2 separate regions of the Homo sapiens genome follow, and region 1 is reported to be linked to region 2. Evidence: microRNA targets listed by miRTarBase, many of them from high-throughput screens and not tested one by one. Region 2 holds a microRNA gene; the other region holds the end of a gene's coding sequence. Distances are from middle to middle.
What was found. The annotated mature microRNA hsa-miR-1976 reads CCUCCUGCCCUCCUUGCUGU and lies in region 2 at 1,893-1,912, opposite strand. An mRNA with a match to its seed (bases 2 to 7 or 8) in the 3' UTR can be bound and repressed. Matches are read on the target gene's strand: a 7mer-m8 pairs with bases 2 to 8, a 7mer-A1 pairs with bases 2 to 7 and ends in A, and an 8mer does both.

Region 1 (5,371 bases), 17 Mb from region 2:
GCAAACTGATTACCTGGTGGTGGGAGGAGATTCAAGGGGAAGAGTCACTGTGTTTCATTATTGATTTCAGCTAAATTACTAGTTTTAAAAAAGTAAACAGAAAATATTTGTATCTAATTACACACTATGTTCCAGTGTTCTGATCACTTTTTTTTTTTTGAGGTTAACATTGTAAACTCTTTGTGGGTAGTGATGGATTGAGGGCAAATGTTTTTTTGCTCCTGCAGCCAGTTCCTCTGTCCACACCGGAATCATGCACATTCACTGGGGGGAAGGGGGACTGGAAAGTGAAGCAGACAGGAAACCTGGAGGTTCACTTGGGTCTGGACCTCCTCTTTCTTGTGAGTATCCCAGCAAAAGCCTTTCCATGCAGTCTTGATGCTTTCACCAGCCATGAGCAAACAAAATAATCATTTAAGGTGTATCTTCCCTCAAAACAGCAGGCAGGCATTGTGTTTAAGTGCCATTTGCTTCCCAAGGAAGATTCAGTTTGCATGTCCCACCCAAAGGACTCTTTATGTGGCCAATTCTATTACGTGCATTAGTTTAAGCACACCTTTATCAGCAGTATCATCCATGGATCTGTAATTCTTAAGTAAAAGGAATGAAATGGTTTGTCAGATCTTGACTTTGAAGTCAGACCATTCCACAGGCTCAGATGCCCCTCTTGCTCTGTCGTCCAGATTGGAGTAGAGTGGCACAATCCCATGGCTCACTGCAGCCTCAACCTCCTGGCCTCAAGGGATCCTCCCACCTCAGCCTCCCAAGTAGCTGGGACTACAGGTGCATGCTCAGCTAATTTTTTTGTAAAGAGAAGGTCTCCCTATGTTGCCCAGGCTGGCCTTGAACTCCTGGCCTCAAGCAATTCTCCTTCCTCAGCCTCCCAAAGTGCTGGGATTACAGGTGTGAGCTACCGCAAGGTGGCTAATGCCTGTAATCCCAGCACTTTGGGAGGCCAAGGCAGGCAGATAACTTGAGATCAGGAGTTTGAGACCAGCCTGGCCAATATGGTGAAACCCTGTCTCTACTAAAAATACAAAAATTAGCCAGGCGTGGTGGCGGGCACCTGTAATTCCAGATACTTGGGAGGCTGAGGCAGGAGAATCGCTTGAACCCAGGAGGTGGAGGTTGCAGTGAGCCGAGATCATGCCATTGCACTTCAGCCTGGGCCACAGAGCGAGACTCCGTCTCAAAAAAAAATTGTTTTAATTTAAAAAATCTTTATATTAAAAAAAGAGAAAGAAAAAAGCACAACAGGATGACTACAGTCAATAATAATTTAATCGTACTTTTGAGACAGGGTCACTCCTGTCACCCAAGCTGGACTGCAATGGTGCCATCTCAGCTCACGGCAACCTCCGCCTCCTGGGCTCAAGTCCTTCATTCTCCTGCCTCAGCCTCTGGAGTAGCTGAGACCACAAGTGCACACCACCGCACCCAGCTTTTTTTTTTTTTTTTAAATAAAGACAGGGTTTCACCATGTTGCCAGGCTGGTCTCGAACTCCTGAGCGCAAGTGATCCTCCACCTGCCTCACCCTCCCAAAGTGCTGGGATTACAAGCGTGAACCACCCAACCCCAACATTAACTGTGCATTTCAGAATAACAAGAGTGTAACTGGATTGTTTGCAACTCAATGGATACACGCTTGAAGGGATGGATACCCCATTCTTCATGATGTGCTTATTTCACGTTGCACGCCTGTATCAAAACATCTCATGTACCCCATAAATATATATACCTCCTATATACCCACAAAAATTAAGAGAAAAACCACAGGTATTTCCCATTTTTAAAGCTAATGAGCCCTTTACAGAGGAACCATCACTTCTTTCCTACTTTGGGTGCCTAAGCAGCTTGCATTTCCATGCCCTGGGGCAGGAGAAGCAGAAAACTAAAATTATAATTGGTTACTATCAAATTTATTCATTCAAGAAGGAGTGAAAACAAAGCAATTTTACACCTTCATATTAGACACAATCTTGGAAAACAGGTTTTAATATGGATATAGGAGGATGTTGCTAAGTGCCATCATCGAATATGAATATTAAAATAGGAATGTGAATATTAAAATTAGATGTTACTCTGTAATTCCAGTGCTTTGGGAGGCTGAGGAGGTAAGATCGCTTCTGGCCAGTAGTCTGAGACCAGCCTGGACAACATAGCAAAACCTCGTCTGCACAAAAAATGAAAAAACATTAGCTGGGCATGGTGGTACTTTCCTGTGGTCCAAGCTACTTGGGAGGCTGAGATGCGAGGATCCCTTGTGCCCAGGAGTTTGAGGTTACAGTGAGCTATGATCTTGCCACTGTATCCAGCTTCAGTGATCGAGTGATACCTTGTCTCAAAACAACAATAACAACAAAGGAAGGGGCGGCGCGGGCCAGGTATGGTGGCTCCCTCCTGTAATCCCAGTACTTTGGGAGGCCGAGGCGGGTAGATCACCTGAGGTCAAGAGTTTGAGACCAGCCTGGCCAACATGGTGAAACCCCATCTCTACTAAAAATACAAAATTAGCCAGGTGTGGTGGCGCATGCCTGTAGTCCCAGCTACTCAGGAGGCTAAGACAGGAGAATTGCTTGAAACCGGGAGGTGGAGGCTGTAGTGAGCCGAGATTGTGCCACTGCACTCCAGCCTGGGAGAGACAGAGCGAGACTCCATCTCAAAACAAAACAAAACAAAACTTCTGGAATAGCATTACTGTCATGTATTGTAAAGTACAGAAGCTTCACTAAAGTCACTCATTTTGACTTCTACGTAGTTGTTGGAGCAATTACACTAGAGTCAAGAACCCCAGTTAAAAGTAAACTCAATTTAAAATAACTTGGAAATATCCTCCTCTTAACCCTACCAGGGTGTCTGCAAGTAAACCTGAAACTACAGTGCATAGGTATTAGAAATGAGTATCTTTCTAGACGTTCAAATTGAAAACCAACCTTCATGTACAATATACTCAAATTCCAGTGAAAGAGCTAATGGAAGACTAGGGGTTTTACTTGCCTTCTTCTTAGTATCATCTTTTTGTTCCCTTATTAAATTTGCTTTAAAACCAAGGGGGTAACATCCTGGTTTTTTTTTTTTTTTTGAGATGGAGTCGCACTCTGTGGCCCAGGCTGGAGTGCAGTGGCGCCATCTCAGCTCACTGCAAGCTCCGCCTCCCAGGTTCACGCCATTCTCCTGCCTCAGCCTCCCGAGTAGCTGGGACTATGGGTGCCCGCCACCACGCATGGCCAATTTTTTTGTATTTTTTTAGTAGAGACGGGGTTTCACCGTGTTAGCCAGGATGGTCTCGATCTCCTGACCTCGTGATCTGCCCGCCTTGGCCTCCCAAAGTGCTGGGATTAAATTTTTTTTTTTTTTAATGTTGAACTAGGATATTTAAACAATCCCAGTGCTTTCTATCAGAATGTGAGCTCTCTGACGGGTGAGCCATAGTCCTACGTTGTGCTCCTTTTCTGCAAGAGCAGAGGTCCAAGAACAGGGCTAAAGACCTCAGTGGGAATGACTGTTCTTCATCACATTCTGGATTCACAGCCAAACAGGGTAGCTGTGCTGTCAACACACTTAACAAGGCAACTGGTCTTAACTTCCGGAACTATATCCAGGAGCCAGGCCATTGATAAAACAGTTCTTTAAAAATTCTTGCCTTTGGTTCAAAGTAGGGAGAAAAGGATAACTTCAGGAAGTTTTTTATAGCTTAAAATATTGAGTCTCAGAAAGTTATATATATTCATCTCAGCAGTCTGAACGCTTAGATGATCAATCTGCAAGTAATTGGAAATGTACAAAGAAGAAAAATTGCTGGGAAGTTTGTCCTGGTCCACACACCACCACCAAAATGTGACACAATTTTTTTTTTTTTGAGATGGAGTCTCACTCTGTCGACCAGGCTGGAGTGAAGTGACGTGATCTCAGCTCGCTGCAACCTCTGCCCCCTGGGTTTCAAGTGATTCTCCTGCCTCAGCCTCCCAAGTAGCTGGGATTACAGGCACACGTCCGGCTAATTTTTGTATTTTTAGTAGAGACAGGGTTTCGCCATGTTGGCCAGGCTGGTCTGGAACTCCTGACTTCACGTGATCCATCTGCCTCGGCCTCCCAAAGTGCTGGGATTACGGGCGTGAGCCACAGTGCCCAGCCAAAATGCGACACTTCTTCCCTGTCTAGCAGTGCAAGATCTTAAAGTCAGATTATAAAACAAGTTGTATTCTCACTTTATCATTTTTCTCTGCAGTTCTAGGGCAGGTTTATCTGAATTACTTAAGTCCTTCATAGTATAGTGAGCATAAAAGAGGACACAAGCCAAATGTATACTTAAATTAAATAGCATGATTTAATTTAGTTGGTGCTTAACCCTGAATCCTCTTAAGTTAAAAAAAAAGTTATAATTAACTATTAACGTTAATGAATTTAAACCTTCCAGAAAGCATGAATCCAAAAGGAAATGTCCAACAGGTGATATGAACCAGATATTTTATGGCCTTTCCTGTTTCAGTCTCAAACTTTCTAAACATCAATGGGGAAAAAAAATTCTCTAGAGTTTTTCAGTTTTATTCTTCTAGAGCACAATTTTCCGGCCTGTTACTGAGTACGGTCTTCTAACAGGTACACAATTAACTCATAAGTAGACAACACAATGGCAGTATTTGGGATCTGCCGGATAAGCTGGGCAAACAGTCCTCTATAAAAGGCAAGGTAGCCTTCTTCCCGGAACACCAGGCGCGCCGTCTGGACAAAAGACTTGTACTTGGTGCCCTCTTCCCGGAGCCTCGTCCTTATGACTTCTGCAGAGAGAGAAAGACCTACTTTACGCCACATATTAAATGGGGAACGAATCCACAGCACACAACTTTAAAACTGTCAAGGTTAGGCCGGGTGCGGTGGCTCACACCTGTAATCCCAGAACTTTGGGAGGCCGAGGCGGGTGGATCACTTGAGGCCAGGAGTTGGAGACCAGCCTGGCCAACATGGTGAAACCCCGTCTCTACTGAAAAACAAAAATTAGCCAGGCAAGGTGGTGCACGCCTACTACTAGAGTGGCTGAGGAATGAGGATCGCTTGAACCTGGGAGGTGAAGGTCGCAATGAGTCGGGATCGTGCCACTACACTCCAGCCTGGGCCACGGAGCAAGCAAGACTCTGTCTCAAAAAATAAATAAATAAAATAAAATTGTCAAGGTTACAACTGTGTCTATTTCCCACCTCAGCTGTATTTGGACAGGAAAGTCACATAACCTAGAGAGACAATGAAAAATTAAGTTCTTTTTAGAACCTTTTCCAACTCTAGGATTTGGTCAACTATGGACACTTACACATACACGAAAGTACAAAATAACTTTTTTTTTTTTTTTTTTGAGGCAGAGTCTCACTCTATTAC
Region 2 (5,319 bases):
ACTCAGCATTTTCCACTTTCTGGAGCTTCTGATGAAGAAATTCCAATGTACCAGTGGGAGGAGGAAGGCCCAGAGACTTTAGGCAACTTCTCCAAGGCCACACAGTTAGAACAGAAGCTGAGCTTGTTCTGAGACCTACAGAGAGCCCCACCTCATTCCAAGGCAAGCCTCATCTCTGTTCCTCTTATCCCATTGACCTTTTCAACCATAGGACAGGCTGTTACTCCATTCGACCCCAGGGGCCTTGACTGGACCTTACACAGCTGGTCATGGACCAGATGAACCCAGGAGCCAGGGAAGCCAGCACACACTGGACACCTACTACATGCCGGCATGTTCACACAACCTCATTTCATCAACAGAGCCCTGAAGCAAGCTTGGGATCATCATCTCCCATTGAGACGAGGAACCTGCGGTGCAGAGAGGTGAAGTCACCTGCCTGGGGTCACTTAGTTCATAAGTGGCCTCATTCGTTTAACAAATATTTATAGAGGGACTGTTTTGTGCCAGGCAGTGGGGACCTGACACAGAGCCGGGATTGGGACCTATGCCTTCTGACTCCTGAGCTCATGCTATTTCTCTTGTGCCAGCAGCCTTGGCGGAGAAGCTGTGTGGGGGCCTCTGTCCTTGTCCCCAGAGGGAGTAGGGATGACTCAGTTCCTGCCTTCCCCCTACACACAGGTCAACTCCCCCCTCCACAACACCACACATGGAGCCAGAAAGCAGGGTGGCCCGCGGCATTGTCTGCCCACACAAAGGACAACGGCCCCTTTCAGCCCAGATGTGGCCCTGTGGCCTAGGCTGCAGCTGTACCCGGCTCCCCATCGCCACATCCCCTCCCCTGAGCTGGGGCTGCTTACCGAGCCGGTTGGCAGGATTCCGCTTGAACAGGGCCCGCAAGAGGCTCTGGGCTTCAGTGCTCAGAAACTGGGGCATGCCTAGCTTCGCCCTGAAACAGCCCCCGGGACTCATCAAGGCTGAGCCCTGCCCCAGAGGCCCCATCTCCCCCGGCCCCTGTCCAGATCTAGTTCCCAGCTCAGTCTAGACAAGCCATCCACTAATTCACTTCCCAAAGGCTTCAGGGATCCTACCCACAGGCCCCCAGGGATGAAAGAGGGGCTCTGGAAGGTATAATGTTTAACCCAGAGGAGAGTCTCATTAGAGAGGGTAGCTGAGGCAGGGACAGGGTAATAATATTCTGACCCCCAAACTGGGGCTGGGGCTTGGAGGAGTCCATTGTTATCAGGGCAGGGCTGGGGCTTACTTCAGAATCAGTGTCATGGTCTCCTTCCGGTCCTTCCCCTGGAAGGGCAGGGAGCCCGTCAGCATCTCAAACTGCAGAGGACAAGGATCTATTCAGGCTCTGATCCCTGTCTCCGACACACCTCCCGCCTCCTCCCAGTCAGACCCCTCTGCCCCAGTCCCAGGATTCTTGCTGATACATCCAAGTCAGCCTGGAGCAAGAATTATGCCCGTCCCTCTTGCCTCTGCCAACCAGACCACCAGGAGCAGCGGTGGGGGCGCGAGGCTGGGGAGAAGGCCAGCACTGGGTTAGGCGCGTCCCAGGTGGGGTCAAGCCTGGGATCCTTCCAAGGAAGAAAACTGCAGGTGCATATAGGGTGAGGCCAGCTTGGCTGTGAGAGGAGACGGGGAGAGCCCTAGAAATGATCAACCCCCTCACTGTACAGATAGGGAGACTGAGGCCAGAGGCTTGGGCTGGATCCTTTACCCCTGTCTGGGCACTCACCATCAACACCCCATAGGACCACCAGTCCGCACTATGGGAGTGGCCCTGGCGGTTGACGACCTCAGGGGCCATGTACTCCACTGTCCCGCAGAAAGAATAGGCCTTCTTCTCGTGGTCAATGGCCTCTTTGCTCAGGCCAAAGTCTACAGCAAGGAGGGCAGGAGGACACACCTTAGGACCCCTGCCTTCCTTGCTGCCACCCTTTGCACACCCAACCCCCGTGCCCAGAGGCCAGAAGGCATCACCCCCATGACACTCAGGAGGAAGCTAAGGCCCAGAGAGGTCAGGTGACTTGCTCAACGTTACACAATGAGGGGCTGGGATTCCAGCTGAGGGTGTTCCAAGTCTGAGGCCTGAGTTTTTGACCACTTCCAAGTAACTGGCACGGCTTCTCGGGAAGAATGAGCCCCCAGCACTCAGCCGAGACCTATCATGACCTTGTCCTGTCCTCCCCTGGGTCCCGAGGGGGCAGGCGCCCTCCACTCACCAGTGAGTTTGATGTGGCCCTCCTCATCCAGAAGGATGCTGTAATAGAGAAATAGTGGTCAGGGCCCCTCAGCTGTGGCCGTGTGGGTGATGGTGTTACCACAGGGCTGTGGGAGTTGGGTTCAGCCCAGAGGAGGTGCTCCACCCAATTCTCTCTGATGACTGGGCGGGTGTTGCAGGGTGGTAGCAGTACCACGCAGGGGTGTTGCCTATCTTTTTTGCTAATCCTTGAAGCAACTGTGTGAGGCAAGTACTATTAGGGCCCCGTTTTGCTAATGGGAAAACTAAGGCTCAGGGCAGTTAAGTAGCTCTACAGTCATTGAGCTAGTAAGTCTAGCTAGTAGGTGGAGACAGGATTTGAATACAGGGCTGCCTAACACTAAAGCCAGATCTTATTCCAACTCACCACCTGCCCCTGGCTCCTTAGTTATCATTTGAGGGTAGTTAGATATTAGGGAAAATTCTATAGGGCTTTATCAAGGAAAGACCTCTAAAGGTGGCATCTCAAATGTCACACTAGATTAGCAAAAAAAGACGGGCAACATTACCTGCATGCAAAGTACCTGGCCCTTGGTAATGGTAGCATTAGTGACTGGGCAGCTGGCACTACCACCCACCCCACTCACCCATCCCTCAGATTGCCCAAGAGAGGGAGACGTTTCTGGAGAAAGCCATGCCCACCCACCTCAGGATGGCCCTGTCCTAGAAGAGGCCTCCCCTGGGGAGGCTGGGGTGGGGCTGGAGGCTTCACTCACTTCTCAGGCTTGAGGTCTCTGTAAATGATACCCAGGCTGTGCAGGTGATCCAGGCCCAGAGCCAGCTCAGCCAGGTAAAACTTCACATCCTCCTCCGTGAACATCACCTGCAAAAGACAGGAGGGGCCTTCAGCAGGGACCTCCTCTTCCTTAAGAGCTGGGGCACTGGGCAGTCAGCAGCTTCCTGGTCCTGAAGAGCCACCCTGGGAGGACCCTTGGAAACCCCAGGCCATATAGCCTTCTCATCATACAAAGGATTTGAAGTATGAAATGACTAATACGCAAGCCACTCATTGTGGCACCATTCAGAAATAGAAGGGGTGGGAAACAGGCCTAGGGTCCAAGAGTAGAAGGCTGGAATCAGCCCTCTCCCCTGCATAATGGAGTGCTTTGCAGCCATGAACTGGAACAAGGAGTTTCTCCGTGTTCTGACATGGAGTGAGCTCCAAGATATACTATCTTGAAAAAAGCAAGGTACAGAACAGTGTATACAGAATAGTACTTTTTACATAAGGAAATGGGGGTAGGAATGAACATATATCGGATTTGTTTGCAAAAGAAACATGGGAAAGTTAAACAAGAAACCAATAAAAATGTTTACCTATAGATGGGAATAGAGGGGGCTGGGGTGGGAGGAAGACTTCTTCATGAATATTTTTCTTTTGAATCATGTATATTACCTATTCAAACATTAAAATCACAATTTAAGCCGGGCACGGTGGCTCACACCTATAATCCCAGCCAGCAGTTTGGGAGGCTGAGGCAGGCGGATCACCCGAGGTCAGGAGTTCGAGACCAGCCTGGCCAACATGGAGAAACCCTGTCTCTACCAAAAATACAAAAATTAACCAGGCGTGGTGGCGTGCACCTGTCATCCCAGCTACTCGGGAGGCTGAGGCAGGAGAATTGCTTGAACCCGGGAGGCGGAGGTTGCAGTGAGCTGAGACCCCACCAGTGCACTCCAGCCTGGGTGACAAGAGCAAAACTCCATCTGAAAAAAAAAAAAAAATTACAATTAAAAAAAAAAAAAGCTAGATTCTCTTTAAAGTTTGAATTGTACGAATGGTCCCATTTTCTAGCTCAAATCCTTTTTTTTTTTTTTTTTTTTTTTGAGACAGAGTCTCGCTCTGTTGCCAAGCTGGAGTGCAGTGGCGCGATCTTGGCTCACTGCAACCTCTGCCTCCTGGGTTCAAGCGATTCTTGTGCCTCCGCTTCCTGAGTAGCTGGGATTACAGGCACACTCCACCATACCCAGCTAATTTTTGTATTTTTAGTAGAGACGGGGTTTCACCATGTTGGGCAGGATGGTCTTGATCTCCTGACCTCCTGATCTGCCCACCTCGGCCTCCCAAAGTGCTGGGATAACAGGCGTGAGCCGCTGCGCCCAGCCTCAAATCCTTTTATATTGGTTCAAAATCCTTTTGGATGACATACGCAAGATGACTGCTAAAGTCTCTGGCTCTCTGGGTGACTTTGGGCTTCTCCCCTATCTTCACACCTCTGCCCAGAGCAGCCCTGGAAGAAGGCAGGTGCAGAGGTGAGAGGAACCCTTAGCTCCCTGGAGTTTCCTTGGGAGAAACTCTCAGAGACCTTGCCAGCGTATGGCCTCCATTCCAGGGTGCGTGGTATTTCCTGGGCCAGGGGCTGCTAGGCAGGCCTGGGTGGTTCCAGGTTCAAGCCATACCAAACACATTCTGTACAGGGCCCTGGGATGGGAGGACTTGTCGTCCCTCAGCTCCATCCCGGGGCCCTCTGGCAGTAGATGTCAGCTCACCTCTTTTGAGAGCCGGGTGAAGAGGTCCCCACCACGCAGGAAGTCCAGAATGAGATAGAGCTTGCCCTCGGTCTGGAAGGCTGGGAAGAGGGAGAAAGGCAATGGTAGAGTCGGCGCGGCCTTATGATCTGCTTCTCCGGCCCTGGCTCCCTTGGCCTGCCAGGCAGGCGGTGGGACAGTGTACAGACCACAGGCAAGGGCGAAGGATGGGTGGGGTAGGAGCTCAGGCAGGGCCAGAAGCTTTACCATAGTGCAGCTTCACCACGAATGGGTGATTTACATCAGCCAGGATGTCTCTCTCCATCTTGGTCCGGACGCGGTCACGTACTGGCCAGACGAGAAAGGAAGTCACCAGTAGCCTAGACACTCAACACAGCCACTCCCAAGCCCCCGCTAAGGGATCTCTTTTCCACTTGTTCCTCCAGGCCTGAGCTCCCAAAGCCCCCTCACCCAGGGCTTTGGGGACACTCAATCCTCAGGTTTCCTCCTTGCCAGTCTGTTTCTGGCTCCTTGGCTGGCTCCTTGTCCCCACCCCTCACAGCAGTGCCCACAGCTGG

Region 1: miRTarBase lists SLC25A33 as a target of hsa-miR-1976. Seed matches in the 3' UTR shown: 8mer at 3,950-3,957, 7mer-A1 at 3,292-3,298 and 8mer at 3,172-3,179.

The regions. Positions count from the first base shown.
Region 1 is chr1:9,581,707-9,587,077 of GRCh38, reverse strand. It overlaps SLC25A33 (solute carrier family 25 member 33), which reads right to left. Exons shown (of 7, transcript NM_032315.3): 7 at 1,905-4,779. The coding sequence ends at 4,577. Among named protein-coding and RNA genes, the nearest start is that of TMEM201, 4.5 kb to the left of the region's middle.
Region 2 is chr1:26,551,167-26,556,485 of GRCh38, reverse strand. It overlaps MIR1976 (microRNA 1976), which reads right to left and starts at 1,944; the gene lies at 1,893-1,944. RPS6KA1 (ribosomal protein S6 kinase A1) reads right to left here. Exons shown (of 22, transcript NM_002953.4): 5 at 5,009-5,089; 6 at 4,763-4,842; 7 at 2,989-3,095; 8 at 2,235-2,272; 9 at 1,748-1,890; 10 at 1,265-1,335; 11 at 861-949.